4 linked regions of the Homo sapiens genome follow. The protein of the gene in region 1 purifies or fractionates together with the protein of each later gene. This does not show direct contact. Each region holds a gene or a part of one and is shown in the gene's direction. Other genes may lie near its edges.

Region 1 (2,750 bases):
ATGACTTCCAGATCTGTGTCCTGCTGTGGCCTCTCCTCTTAGGATCCCAGCTGCCTGCCAACCAGCTGTGCTTGGGTGACTCCTGGGCATCTCAAAGCCCCGGTGTCTACCATCACCCATCATGGGGCTCTTGGCCTGCCCATTCAGCACGTGCATTGATGTACACACTCAGTGACTCCCATCCAAGCCTCCCCTGCACGTGCCTGGAGAGACCTGCCCATTGGACTCATCTTGGACTCAGTTCTGCCAATACTTTCTCCCTTCTAAGAGCATTTCCAGTTGGGCTGGAGTTACCCAGCTGCCTGAGAGGTCTCTTTCTGAATGAAGTCAATATCTAAAGTCAAAATTAATCATTCAAAATATTCCCTTACCCCATTTTTTTTGGGGGGGAGATGGGGGTCTTGTGTTGCCCAGGCTGGTCTTGAACTCCTGGCCTCAAGCGATCCTCCCACCTCAGCCTCCCAAAGCTCCCCTTAACCTCAGTTTTGATCCCATCCTCCATTTGGGCATTGCTCAGCTCCCCCACCTGTTAATAGCAAACACCAATCTCAAGCCCCTGCCCCAATCTGCTACAAGGGGTTAGTGTTCCATGCAGTGGGAGTGCAGGGAAGGCTTTACAGGAGAGGAGGGAGTTGAAATGGGCCTGGAGGCCTGGGATGGTAGACACTGGATCCTTTTCCCCCACAGCTCCTGGCTGTTTCTTCACACTCCCAGCATCACTATTACTGCTAGCATGTCTTTAGCATCATTTTGCCCTCCCTCTGACTTTCAGCAAGCCTGCACTTACCTCCAAATAAATGCATGTTTTCGGGGGGCAAAGGCAGGTTCCTTCCTTACCTTATTGTTGCTTCCCCCACCCCATGCTGCAGCTGAGTGGGTGACCTTTCTCCTCACCTCCGTGTGCCGCATCTCTCACCTAGTCTCTGTTAGGAACCCTACAGGAGCCTGCACCCCAGTAACCCCATTTTATGCTGCTTGGAGGAAGAGACAGAGAGTTTGAGAGGTCCCAGTTCTTTTCAGTGTGTGTTTGGTTCCCCCACTTCTCAAAGCTGAGAGCTTCTTTGTTTTAAGAGCCACTTGGTTAAGTCAAGAGCATTAGAAGAGTAAAAAGAAGAATACAATTAGATAATTTTACCTAAACATGCTATAGTCGACTAGGGAGTCACATAGACATTGATTTTCTAATGAGGGCGCTGTTGGTGATTCTTTTTGTGTGTAAAGATGCTTCTGATCATGCCTGCTATTACATGATACTTATTTCTAAAGTCACTTTTTTTTTTTTTTTTACATTTTCATTGTAGAAAAATATCCCATAAAAATTGTGCCCCCTAGAGGGCGAGGGCCACGGGAAGGGGGATCAGGAAAACAAGAATCAGTCTCTAAGCTGGTCCTGGAGCAGCATGACAGATGTATCTGAGCCCAAGCAGGAGAGGAGCCACAGGCCCAGGCTGGCAGAGTTGTGACTACTAGAATCTCGAGTCACTGGGGCTCAGGGAGCCCTAACTTGGTGGCAGGTGACAAATGTGGCACAAAGGAGAAAGGAGTCTTCTCCTTCCACATAGAACACACTTGGCTTCAGTGCTTTGGGGGGATTCGTGGACCACAGAGAAGCTTCCGCATATTTATAGGCACTGGGGACCAGCAGGAAGTGGTGGTGAGACACTTTGAAACCCTCCACTGCAGACTTCACCCAGGGGGCAAGGCAGGAGAGAATCCCTCTGTGGACAGCACTTGAGAGGAAAGGGCTTGTTCATGACCACGTATGAGGTCGCCAACCCAACCCTGTTCCTGAAGTTTCCCAGAAATAGATGGAGAGGTAAGGCCAGCTAGGCTGGAGCGCCAGCATCAGTAGTAGGGGCAGGAGCTCACGCTAAACCCGGTTGGTGTGTCCTGGAGAAGCACAGGTGTCATCTCCAGGGACCTTTCTCGACCAACTAATTTATGGAAATGAGACATTTGTAATTGATTTTAATTCCCTCTTAGGGACTGTGAAATTAAAATGGATTAAATTTTGTCCATCAGGAGCCTCAGGGATTTAATGTCCAATTCTAAAACCTGAACAGGCCCTTTTGTTTTGCAATTTGTGGACCAATCCCTGGCTTCATTTTATTTGGCTTTGCTTTCACTTCCCCATTTTCTGTTATTTTTTTTTTTTTTGTGCTGTTATGTACATCTCTTAAAGCTGGTCAAATCATATTTTGGGATGGAATGGCCTGATAAGTTAATAAATTATATTAAACTGCCAAAAAAGGAATGTGTTTTCGATTCTTCTGGCTTCTTCCTGGTTACACCAAAAGCATGGGGGAGAAAAGGAAGGGAAGTCATCGAGACACAGGTTGTCAGGGAGATTGGGGCCAAGGTCTCAAGCCCCTTGTGCTGGGCAGGTGTCTTCTTTTCATTGTTCCCTGTGGTCCTTCAGACATGGGTGGCTCTTCAGGCATGTCCACAACCCCAGGAGCCATGGCCTCAGTGGCCGGTGCAACTGGCCGGAGCCACAGTGGCTCCGGGTGTCGGGGCTGTCCTTTTGTCCCTTTGATCTTACGCAGGGTGAGGGAGCCAATCACGAGAGGCTCACCCCTGACGTCACCCAGTCCCCAGGGCCAGTGAGGGCCCTGCGTTCCATGGGGCCCCCTGGAGGGAGGAGTGGCATCTCAGTCTGCTGGTCCCTATGCATCTACTTTGATATGTCCCTCAGGATCCCTGTGCTAGGAAACCAGAGGTGTCTGAAATCCAAATAACACAAGGATAAT
Region 2 (3,500 bases), on another chromosome or scaffold:
TTAGAAGCTGGCTCTGGCTGCCATGTAGAGAATGACTAAGAGGGTGGGAATGAAGACACGGAGGCCCACGAGGAGCCAGGGTGGAAATCCAGCGGAGAGAGAGTGGTGGCCTGGCCGGGGAAGGGACCATGGCACAGGGCGAGGTGGGCAGATCTGAGATGGAGATGGCAGAATTAGGTGGACTTGGTGACTGCTTGAAGGGGACAGTGAGTGAGATGGACGGGGCCCGGTGATGCCCAGGGTTCTGTTGGGGACAACTGGGAAGAGGGGGCACCTCCACTTGAGGCGGGAACACAGGAAACAGAGCATATTTGGGGAGAGGAATGGGGCCGGCTGGGTCATGCTGAAATGAGGTGGCCAGGACAGCCGAGGGCAGCGGGGAGGTGGACGTAGGCATATGGGAGGGAACTGGGGCTGGGGGTTCCCCTAGGAGCTCGTGAGAGCAAAGATGGGTCTGGGACTGCCGGAAAATGAGAATATCTGGGGAGAGAGTAGGGAGGTGACATTGGGAAGGGGGCCTGGGACAGAGATTCTCAGCCCTGGCTGCAAACTAGAATCTCCCAGAGAGCTTTTAAAACATCCCCAGGCCAGGACCCCTCCCCAGACCAAATAAGTTGGATTATTGTGGTCAGAGCATCAGTATATTAAGTTCCCAGGTGAATAAAAGTGGGCATCCCGTATTGAGAACTTTCCAATTGGAGCCATGGTTCTGGATGAGCTGTAGCAGCATCACCTGGGGACTTATCAGAAATATGAATTCTCAGGCCGGGCGCGGTGGCTCACGCCTGTAATCCCAGCACTTTGGGAGGCCAAGGCGGGCGGATCACAAGGTCAGGAGATCGAGACCATCCTGGCTAACACGGTGAAACCCCATCTCTACTAAAAATACAAAAAATTAGCCGGGCACGGTGCTGGGCACCTGTAGTCCCGGCTACTCGAGAGGCTGAGGCAGGAGAATGGTGTGAATCCAGGAGGCGGAGCTTGCAGTGAGTCCGGATAGCGCCACTGCACTCCAGCCTGGGCGACAGAGCAAGACTCCGTCTCAAAAAAAAAAAAAAAAAAAAGAAAAGAAAGAAATATGAATTCTCAGGGCCACCCGGACCTGCTGGATCTGATGTGCAGGTGGGCCCTGCATGCCTGCCTGCCTCCCACAGGCCCCAGGTGATGCTCGCAGATACTACTGTGCTAGAACGGAACTCTGAGGGGCACAAGGCCAAAGAAAGGTGGCTCATGCCTGTAATCCCAGCACTTTGGGAGGCCGAGGCTGGCGGATCACCTGAGGTCAGGAGTTCGAGACCAGCCTTGCCAACATGGCGAAACCCCATCTCTACTAAAAATATAAAAATTAGCCTGGCATGGTGGCAGGCACCTGTCATTCCAGCTACTCAGGAAGCTGAGGCATGAAAATCGCTTGAACCCAGGAGGCTGCTGTGAGCCGAGATCACGCACTCCAACCTGGGTGACAGAGTGAGACTTGGTCTCAAAAAAAAAAAAAAGGAAAGAAAGGGATTCTGCCAAGGTGCCTCGGAGAGGAAGGAGGAAAAGCAGAGAGAATGATGTCAGGGAAAGGAGGGAGTTTGGCCCAGGTCTCCCTCCCTGCCCTTTCTTGTCCCTGGGAGGCAGCTCTGCCTGACTGTGGCCCTGGAGGCACTGGCTAGAGGAGAGTCAGGGTGATTGGCATTTCCTGGCCTCCTGACTCTGGGTTCTTCCCTGGCAGAGGCTGACGCAGGAGATCCAGAGCCGAGAGCGGGACAGGGCCACAGCATCCCACCTCTCCCAGGCCCTGCAGGCAGCGCTCCAGGTAAGCAGCTTGCCTTCAGCTTGCCCCTCTCCATGCATCACCCTTGTCCCTCTTCCAGCCCTATCCCCCACACCCAGCCTCCCCCACTGGTTGCCAGCCTGCTGTCCTTTCCTCCCTGCTCAGGACTATGAGCTCCAGGCAGACACCTACCGCTGCTCTTTGGAGCCCACCCTGGCAGTGTCAGCCCCCAAGAGACCCCGAGTGGCTCCCCTGCAAGAGAGCATCCAAGCCCAGGTGAGATGGGACCTTGCGGGGCTCAGTGGACCTTGACACCAGCTCTGTAGGGTCCAAGGCAGGAGCTGACTCTGCCCTTCCCCTCTCCCTCTGCCTTCTCCAGGAGAAGAACCTTGCAAAGGCCTATACTGAGGTTGCAGCAGCACAGCAGCAGCTGCTCCAGCAGCTGGAGTTTGCTAGAAAAATGCTGGAGAAGGTACACAGACAACACCTACAGCTTTCCCACAATAGCCAGGAATAACCAGGAATGCCCACTCCATTCCCAAAATGCCAGGCTGTCACCCTGGTAGTCTCCTTCCCTCCTCTCCCTCCTGCCTGCAGCCCCTGGGCAGCTCTGGCTGCTGGAGAGGGGAGCGGATTCCAGCCACCCAGTTTTCTCTCCAGCAGCTCTTACAGGCTGGTGTCCATCCCAGGGTTAGGCCCTGGAGATGGCATTCATGGCCACTGGGCATCCTCCAATGGGACAAGACCTCTAACCCCAGAGAGCAGAGAAAATCCCCTAGAGCTTCACCCTCAGCCACCTGGCTCTCCACCTTCGGCCTACACACCCTCAAGCCAGAACTTCTCCAGGACTCCTGGTGACTTGCCAGCTTTTCTGTTACCCTCGGCCACAGTCAGGGTCCCTGGATGGAAGGGGAAAAGGGAGAGGTTCTGGAGGGACAGGGAGAACCTGTCCTGTTTGCACTTTTTTTTTGTTTTTTGTTTTTTTTGAGACGGAGTCTCGCTCTATCACCAAGGCTGGAGTGCAGTGGCACAATCTCAGCTCACTGCAACCTCCGCCTCCCTGGTTCAAGCGATTCTCCTGCCTCGGCCTCCTGAGTAACTGGGATTACAGGCATGCGTCACCACGCCCAGCTAATTTTTTGGATTTTTAGTAGAGATGGGGTTTCACTATGTTGATCAGGCTGGTCTCGAACTCCTGACCTCAGGTGATCCGCCCACCTTGGCCTCCCAAAGTGTTGGGATTAAAGGCATCAGCCATTGCACCTGGCCCTTACTTGCACTTTCTAATGCAAACCAGGCCTGCGCACTGCCTTGGGTCCTAAAATCATTGCATTGACTGGGTCTTCTCAAAATCCTATATCCAAGCATCTTAGGTCTTCAGCTCCACCTCTGAGGACCCACTGGGGAGTCTCAGGAAACAGGGAGGGGTCTTTCATCTCAGGAAAAACATGGAGCTCCTATCTCTACCGCCCACCCCGTGCTCTACCCTTCTTCCTCTCTGCAGAAGGAGCTCAGTGAGGACATCCGAAGGACCCATGATGCAAAGCAGGGCTCCGAGAGCCCTGCCCAAGCAGGGAGAGAGTCAGAGGCCCTGAAGGCCCAGCTGGAAGAGGAGAGGAAGCGGGTGGCCCGGGTGCAGCATGAGCTGGAGGCGCAGAGGAGCCAACTGCTGCAGCTGAGGACCCAGCGGCCCTTGGAGAGGCTGGAGGAGAAGGAAGTGGTAGAGTTCTACCGGGACCCC
Region 3 (3,500 bases), on another chromosome or scaffold:
AGTTTGGAAGAAATTGGTTCTAACACTCATCATTGTCTTTGAGAGGTTTAGGACTTCAGTGGATAGTGTAGCTGCAGATGTGGTGGAAAGGACTAGTATTAGAAGTGGAACCTGAAGATGTGACTGAATTGCTACAATCTCATGACAAAACTTGAACAGATAAGTTACTTCTTATGGGTGAGAAAAGAAAGTGGTTTGAGATTGAATCTACTCCTGGTGAAGCATTGTTGAAATGACAACAAAGGATTTAGAATATTAAATAAACGTAGTTGATAAAGCAGCAGCAGGTTTGAGATGATTGACTACAATTTTGAAAGAAGTTCTACTCTGGGTAAAATGCTATCAAACAACATTGCATGCTACACAGAAATCTTTTGTGAAAGGAAGAGTCAATCAAGGTGGCCAACATTACTGTTGTCTTATTTTAAGCAACTGCCACAGCCACCGAAACCTTCAGCAACCACCACATTGATTAGTCAGCATCGTTCAACATCGCAGGAAGCCCCTCTACCAGCAAAAAGATCACAACTCTCTGAAGGCTCAGATGATTATTAGCATGTATTAGCAATAAAGTATTTTTAAATTAAGATATATACTTTTTTAGACACAATGCTTATGTACGATTAATAGACTACATAGTATAGTGTAAACATGACTTTCACATGCACTCGGAAGCCAAGAAATTTCTGTGACTTGCTTTATTGTGATATTTGCCTTATTGTGGTGGTCTGGAACTGAACCTGCAATATCTCTGAGGTAGGCCTATGTTTAAATGAGGTGGGCTTTGCCTTTTATTATCAAAATAATTATCTGTAGTTTGGAATAGGGTGATGATGAGTTAAAGAGAAAACATCTTCTGTCTTGAAACCCCCTCCTTGTCAAAACAGATATTCATTCTCTAAAAGACTGGCACTGTGTCCTTTTTCAGGCAACAAGAAAGAGAAAGTAGATTGGAAAATGAGAGAAAATCAAGAGGCTAATGAAACCATGTGGTAGCCTTTTGGGACAGTGTCAGAGAGATAGAAAATCTCAGACAGTTCCCCAAATAAATAAATTCAGTGTATGATTTTTCCAGCCTACATATCATTACTAGCTTTGAAATGTTTTTAAACAATCTTTGTTGATGAAATTCAGTGAGATTTCTGCATTTACATTAGATTCCAAATCTGTTAAAAGGAGTCTCAAAACTCTGTTAGGTATTTGTAGTCAGTTTAATTGCATTTGTTATAACTGCAATATTATATTGAAGTGCTGTTCAACCAAATACATAGAAAATGCTGTAAAATAGTGTGTAGAACAATCCAAGTGAGTCAACTTTTGTGACAATGTCTTTAATCGATGTAAGCTTCCTTCTCTAACTTTCTTGAATTACTGACTTTTTTTCAGTATCATCCTATAAAAACTCTTCAGGTTTCCTATGTTTCAGTGTAGCTGATTTATACTGATTGTAGGTTTGGTTCAGGAGGACACTCAAAAGTCCTGCAGGATGTGGAAGAATTCTTTGTAGTGTGGGACTGTCCCACATATTTCAAGATGCCTAGCATCTCTGGCCTCACCCTCTGAATGGCATCGGCTTGAGGTGGTGGTGGACTTCATTGTTATAACCAGAAAGGTTCCCACAAGTTTACAAAATGCCCTGAGGGGCTGGGACTACCGGTCTACAGCGTGGTATTCAACACCCTTCACAACTGGATTCCTTACCATGTGAAAACAAAGAGGCTATTTTCTTTTTTTGTCTTTTTAGACATTGGTGAAGACTGAGGAAGAAACAGCCCAGGCCGTTGCTGCAGAGAAGTGGTCACATCTGAGTCTGACTCGGAGGAACCTCTGTGGGAACTCAGCTCAGGAGACAGTTATGAGCCTCAGTCCGATGAGTAAGGCCAGGCCTCTGGCTGGACCCCTGTCTGGACTCTCATTTTCCTGTCACTCACCCTGGCTTGGCCCTTGGGAGGCCACGTTTCCTACAGACCCACACCCTTCCTTTCCCTTCTTCTGGCCTCTGCCTCCAGACTTCTAGCCCTTATCACTTTGCATCCTTCCCAATCACATTTTCTTCTGTTACTAATCAGTTTACTGATTGTTGTGGTTATCTTCTCTGATCATCTCTTCTAGTTCCCTGATTCCTTCAGTGACTCCTTTGTATCCTTTTCCCCTTTTTTCTTCCCTGTCAAGGATTCCATATAACTTGTCTTTCAGATATCCCTTCATACTTGGAAGCCCCATGAACACCTCTGTCTGACCTTGTCTTTACCTCAGAGGAGGTCATCTTCACTCTCTAAGAACACGACAGTTCATGTTTATTTTATTTTTTTTAGTTTTTTTAAAGATGGGGTCTCGCTTTGTTGCCCATGCTGGAGCATAGTGGCACGATGATAGTTCACTGCAGCCTCAAACTCCTGGGCTCAACTGATCCTCCCACCTCAGCCTTCTAAAAAGCTGGGGCTACACCCAGGTAATTTTTTGTAGACACGGAGTCTCGCTATGTTGCCCAGGCTGGTCTTGAACTCCTGGCCTGAAGCAGTCCTTCCACCTTGGCCTCCCAAAGCACCCAGCCTAATTTTCTTGAAATGTGCTCTGCCCTGTTGGGCCCTCTCTGCAGCTGGGCTTTGGTGCCTTAATTAACCTTTCTTATCATTTTCCCATACCATGCCACATTTTGTAGGATTGCTGAAACTGTGCACCCTTGAAACACCAATATGATTTGTTTTTTGTTTGATTTGGAACATCTATTCCCTACCCTGGAAGTTTTTTTTTTTTTTTTTTTTTTTTTTTTTCAAAATTCACATAACAGATGACATTTAAATCATTAATGTTATATTTTAGCTGAAGAAATTGTAACTAAAGATAGATTGTTTAAAGCAAAGCAAGAAACTTCTGAAGAAATGGAACAAAGTGGAGAAGCCTCAGGAAAGCCCAACAGGTGAGTGTCCATGGTCCTCAGTGAATCAAATCCTGCAGATATAAGAAATTGGAATGGAATCAGAGAAACCAATTGGTCAAAGGCCTGCTTCTCTGGAATAAGATATGACAACTGCCACTCACTTCTGTGATCATAGGAGGTCCATGCCAAGAAAGTGACCTATTCAAAATTTTCAATATGCAATAAATATACAAAACCTTCAGTTGATACTCAGTTTCCTCCAAGAAGCCTATCCTGATCCAGTCTGTCCTGCTTGATTACCCTTCCCTGGGCTCCCTTACATTTTTATGGAGCTGTGGAGAAGCTAGAAGGCAGATAATTTAACAAGAATGAGGGCTACAGATGAAGCTGCCATGACAGTTAAGAAAGAAATGTCAGAGTGGAAGAGGACAAGCAGGGTACAGGTTGAGCATTCCAAATCTGAAATGTTCCAAAATCTGAGCTGTTTGAGCACCAGCATGATGCTCAAAGGAAATGCTCATTGGAGCATTTTGGATTTTGGATCTTTGGTTAGGGATGCCCAACTGGTATAATGCAAATATTCCAAAATCTGAAAAAAATCCAAAATTCAAAAATCTTC
Region 4 (2,510 bases), on another chromosome or scaffold:
ATTCAAGTGATGCTCATGATCCTGTTACTGTGTGCCCATCATAGATTTCTTTTTTTAGTGTTGCCCTTGCTGTGTAATAAACGCTCTATCTAGTTTACCTAGCAAAAGCTCAAAACTGCGCTAGTATGGACTTTTTGGACAGACTTAGTTTTTGCACATAACCTTGTACAATCTTGCAACAGAGGCCAGCCACGTAAGATATATATCTGGACTCTCTTGTATTATAGGATTTTTCTTGTTCTGAATATCCTTGACATTACAGCTGTCAAAAACAAAAACTGGTATTTCAGATCTGTTTTCTGAAATCTTTTAAGCTAAAATCACATGCAAGAATTGACTTTGCAGCTACTAATTTTGACACCTTTTAGATCTGTATAAAAGTGTGTTGTGTTGAAGCAGCAAACCAATGAGTGCTGCATTTTGGATATTTAGTTTTATCTTTAGTTCAACACCATCATGGTGGATTCATTTATACCATCTAATATATGACACACTGTTGTAGTATGTATAATTTTGTGATCTTTATTTTCCCTTTGTATTCATTTTAAGCATCTAAATAAATTGCTGTATTGTGCTTAATGTAAATATTTGCTTTATTACACATGACAGTCCTGTGTGTCCATTATATCTTTTGCCATTTAATGCCATAACTCTTTCATCAGAGATGGCAGCCACAGTCACAGAGGAAACTTGTGGAAAACCCAAGATCTGTCATCTGCAAATAGAATGCTTTCTCTTGAGGCACCTGGTACAAAATCTGTTTTTCTTTTTTTTTTTTTTTTTTTTTTTTTTTTTTAACTGAAAAACAAACACCCTTGAGTTTTTCAGTTCACCTTTTGTTAAGGAGCAGAGCCTGCATATATATGTAAATGTCTCAATGATAAAAAAAAAAATGTAAACATGGATTGGCATTAATTTGCAAGCAGAATCTTAATAGCCTGATGGGTTTTTTGTTTGTTTTTTCTTCTAGATGAAGTTAAACGTTCGTTTTCACCTTACGATGGGAACAACTGTAGTGCAGGCGGCTCTGCCTCTATTTGCCACTCTTGGCCCTCTTGCTATTAAGGGAAAGGCTTTGAAGAGCACAGCACTGACAGGGCTGTAAAGATGGAAGGAGCTGGTATTTTTACCATGCGTAGATTCCCAAGAGAACTTGTACTAAAAAGCAGAAAGTTACAAGGAAGCAGAATTAGGCCAACATTTCCAGCAATTAAAACAATGATGGGAAACTCCAATCCATGAGGAGGCTGGTCAGTCACCTCAAGGATAGTGGCCTAAAGAAGTCTGAAGTGGCTGATGTCCATAACTTCTGAGTCTGTTTCCAAAAGAAAGACTCTTGTTAATGCTGTTACCAGAGAGTAGAGATTTGACCAGCCTCTCCCTAAAATGTAAGCTTCTCAACAACAGTACAGGAAGAAGTGCAAGAGTAGACTAGAACCTTTAAGGAATTTGGGGCTGGAACGGAGCTATGTTGCATCTGTTGTTATACAGGTAGATTATAAGTTCTACATGCACCAGCCAAAACTTAGGACAGGATGTCCCCAAATTAAGATACTACAGATTACCAAATCAGAAATAACCAGCTGGATTTAGGCCAGCTCACATTTATTTGGAAATTACCCTCCCTGATTAACAGGCTTCTGAGTTGTACGTGGAGGACTAATGAGACTTGTACAAGACACCACGGGGCTTGGGGTCCAGGTCCCAGTTGGATATCGGAACAGACACAGATAAGTGTGTTTCCTCATTAAGGTGGTGAGAGTGTGCCTTTTGGCATTCAGAAAAGGGTTTAGCCACCCTAAGAGTTGGAAATAAAGATTCCCAACTGGAAATGTTGCAGAATCCCTACAAGTGTCTCAATAAAAGCCATTTTAAAAGAATATTGTTGCTACTGTTTGCTTTTCAAATAATCTGGAGATCGTTGGCTATGGCAACGTGCTGCCACCTAATTAGAGAATGCCTGTAAATGTAGGCTGAACACTTCTAACATGAGAAAACCTAAGTATCCTACAGAGGTTTGGTGTGTTTTGTTTTTGTGGGTGTCGGGGGAAGGGGGTGGGGAGGCGTGTTTTTGGCCCTGCAGGTTTTCTCGTGGGAATGAGTTCACTCAGACAAGCTAGGACTGTGGCTTCTTTCCCTGTTCATCACATAGAGCATTTTCTCATCCTATCTTTGGTTCCTTGTCATTGTATAGGGAGAGGAGAATCTTTATCAAACAGCTTCATTCCCTCTTGCAATTCAAGCAGAAAGGGTATCTATGCCTCATATCGCTCTAGAGTTGTATGTCAGTTTGATCCCAATGCCTACTCCTTTGTAACATCCATTTCTGGCATGAACAAAATGAGTGCCAAATTTGAAAACTGCGATGTATTAAAGATGGGAGTTTCCCATCTGAGATGCTTCACGCTAGAAACAAACCTGCTTATTGCCAAATAAGTACTACCATACAGAAGTGTAGTTCCTTTACTACTTAGACCTCAGACTACTAGTACTGAGTCCTCGAGATGAGA

What was found.
Region 2: the proteins of ZSCAN20 (region 1) and EVPL purify together in Homo sapiens (affinity purification with mass spectrometry; 3 studies listed by BioGRID and IntAct, with this or other methods). This does not show direct contact.
Region 3: the proteins of ZSCAN20 (region 1) and PGBD1 purify together in Homo sapiens (affinity purification with mass spectrometry; 3 studies listed by BioGRID and IntAct, with this or other methods). This does not show direct contact.
Region 4: the proteins of ZSCAN20 (region 1) and ADNP purify together in Homo sapiens (affinity purification with mass spectrometry; 3 studies listed by BioGRID and IntAct, with this or other methods). This does not show direct contact.

Annotation. Positions count from the first base shown.
Region 1 is NC_000001.11:33,499,394-33,502,143, forward strand, and holds the end of ZSCAN20 (zinc finger and SCAN domain-containing protein 20), read left to right. Parts: 3' UTR 1-2,250; downstream 2,251-2,750. UniProt on the Homo sapiens protein: May be involved in transcriptional regulation.
Region 2 is NC_000017.11:76,010,307-76,013,806, reverse strand, and holds part of EVPL (envoplakin), read left to right. Parts: intron 1-1,717; coding exon 1,718-1,801; intron 1,802-1,924; coding exon 1,925-2,035; intron 2,036-2,138; coding exon 2,139-2,231; intron 2,232-3,263; coding exon 3,264-3,500. UniProt on the Homo sapiens protein: Component of the cornified envelope of keratinocytes. May link the cornified envelope to desmosomes and intermediate filaments.
Region 3 is NC_000006.12:28,295,072-28,298,571, forward strand, and holds part of PGBD1 (piggyBac transposable element-derived protein 1), read left to right. Parts: intron 1-1,744; coding exon 1,745-1,874; intron 1,875-2,315; exon of another isoform or gene 2,316-2,452; intron 2,453-2,823; coding exon 2,824-2,920; intron 2,921-3,500.
Region 4 is NC_000020.11:50,888,418-50,890,927, reverse strand, and holds the end of ADNP (activity-dependent neuroprotector homeobox protein), read left to right. Parts: 3' UTR 1-2,010; downstream 2,011-2,510.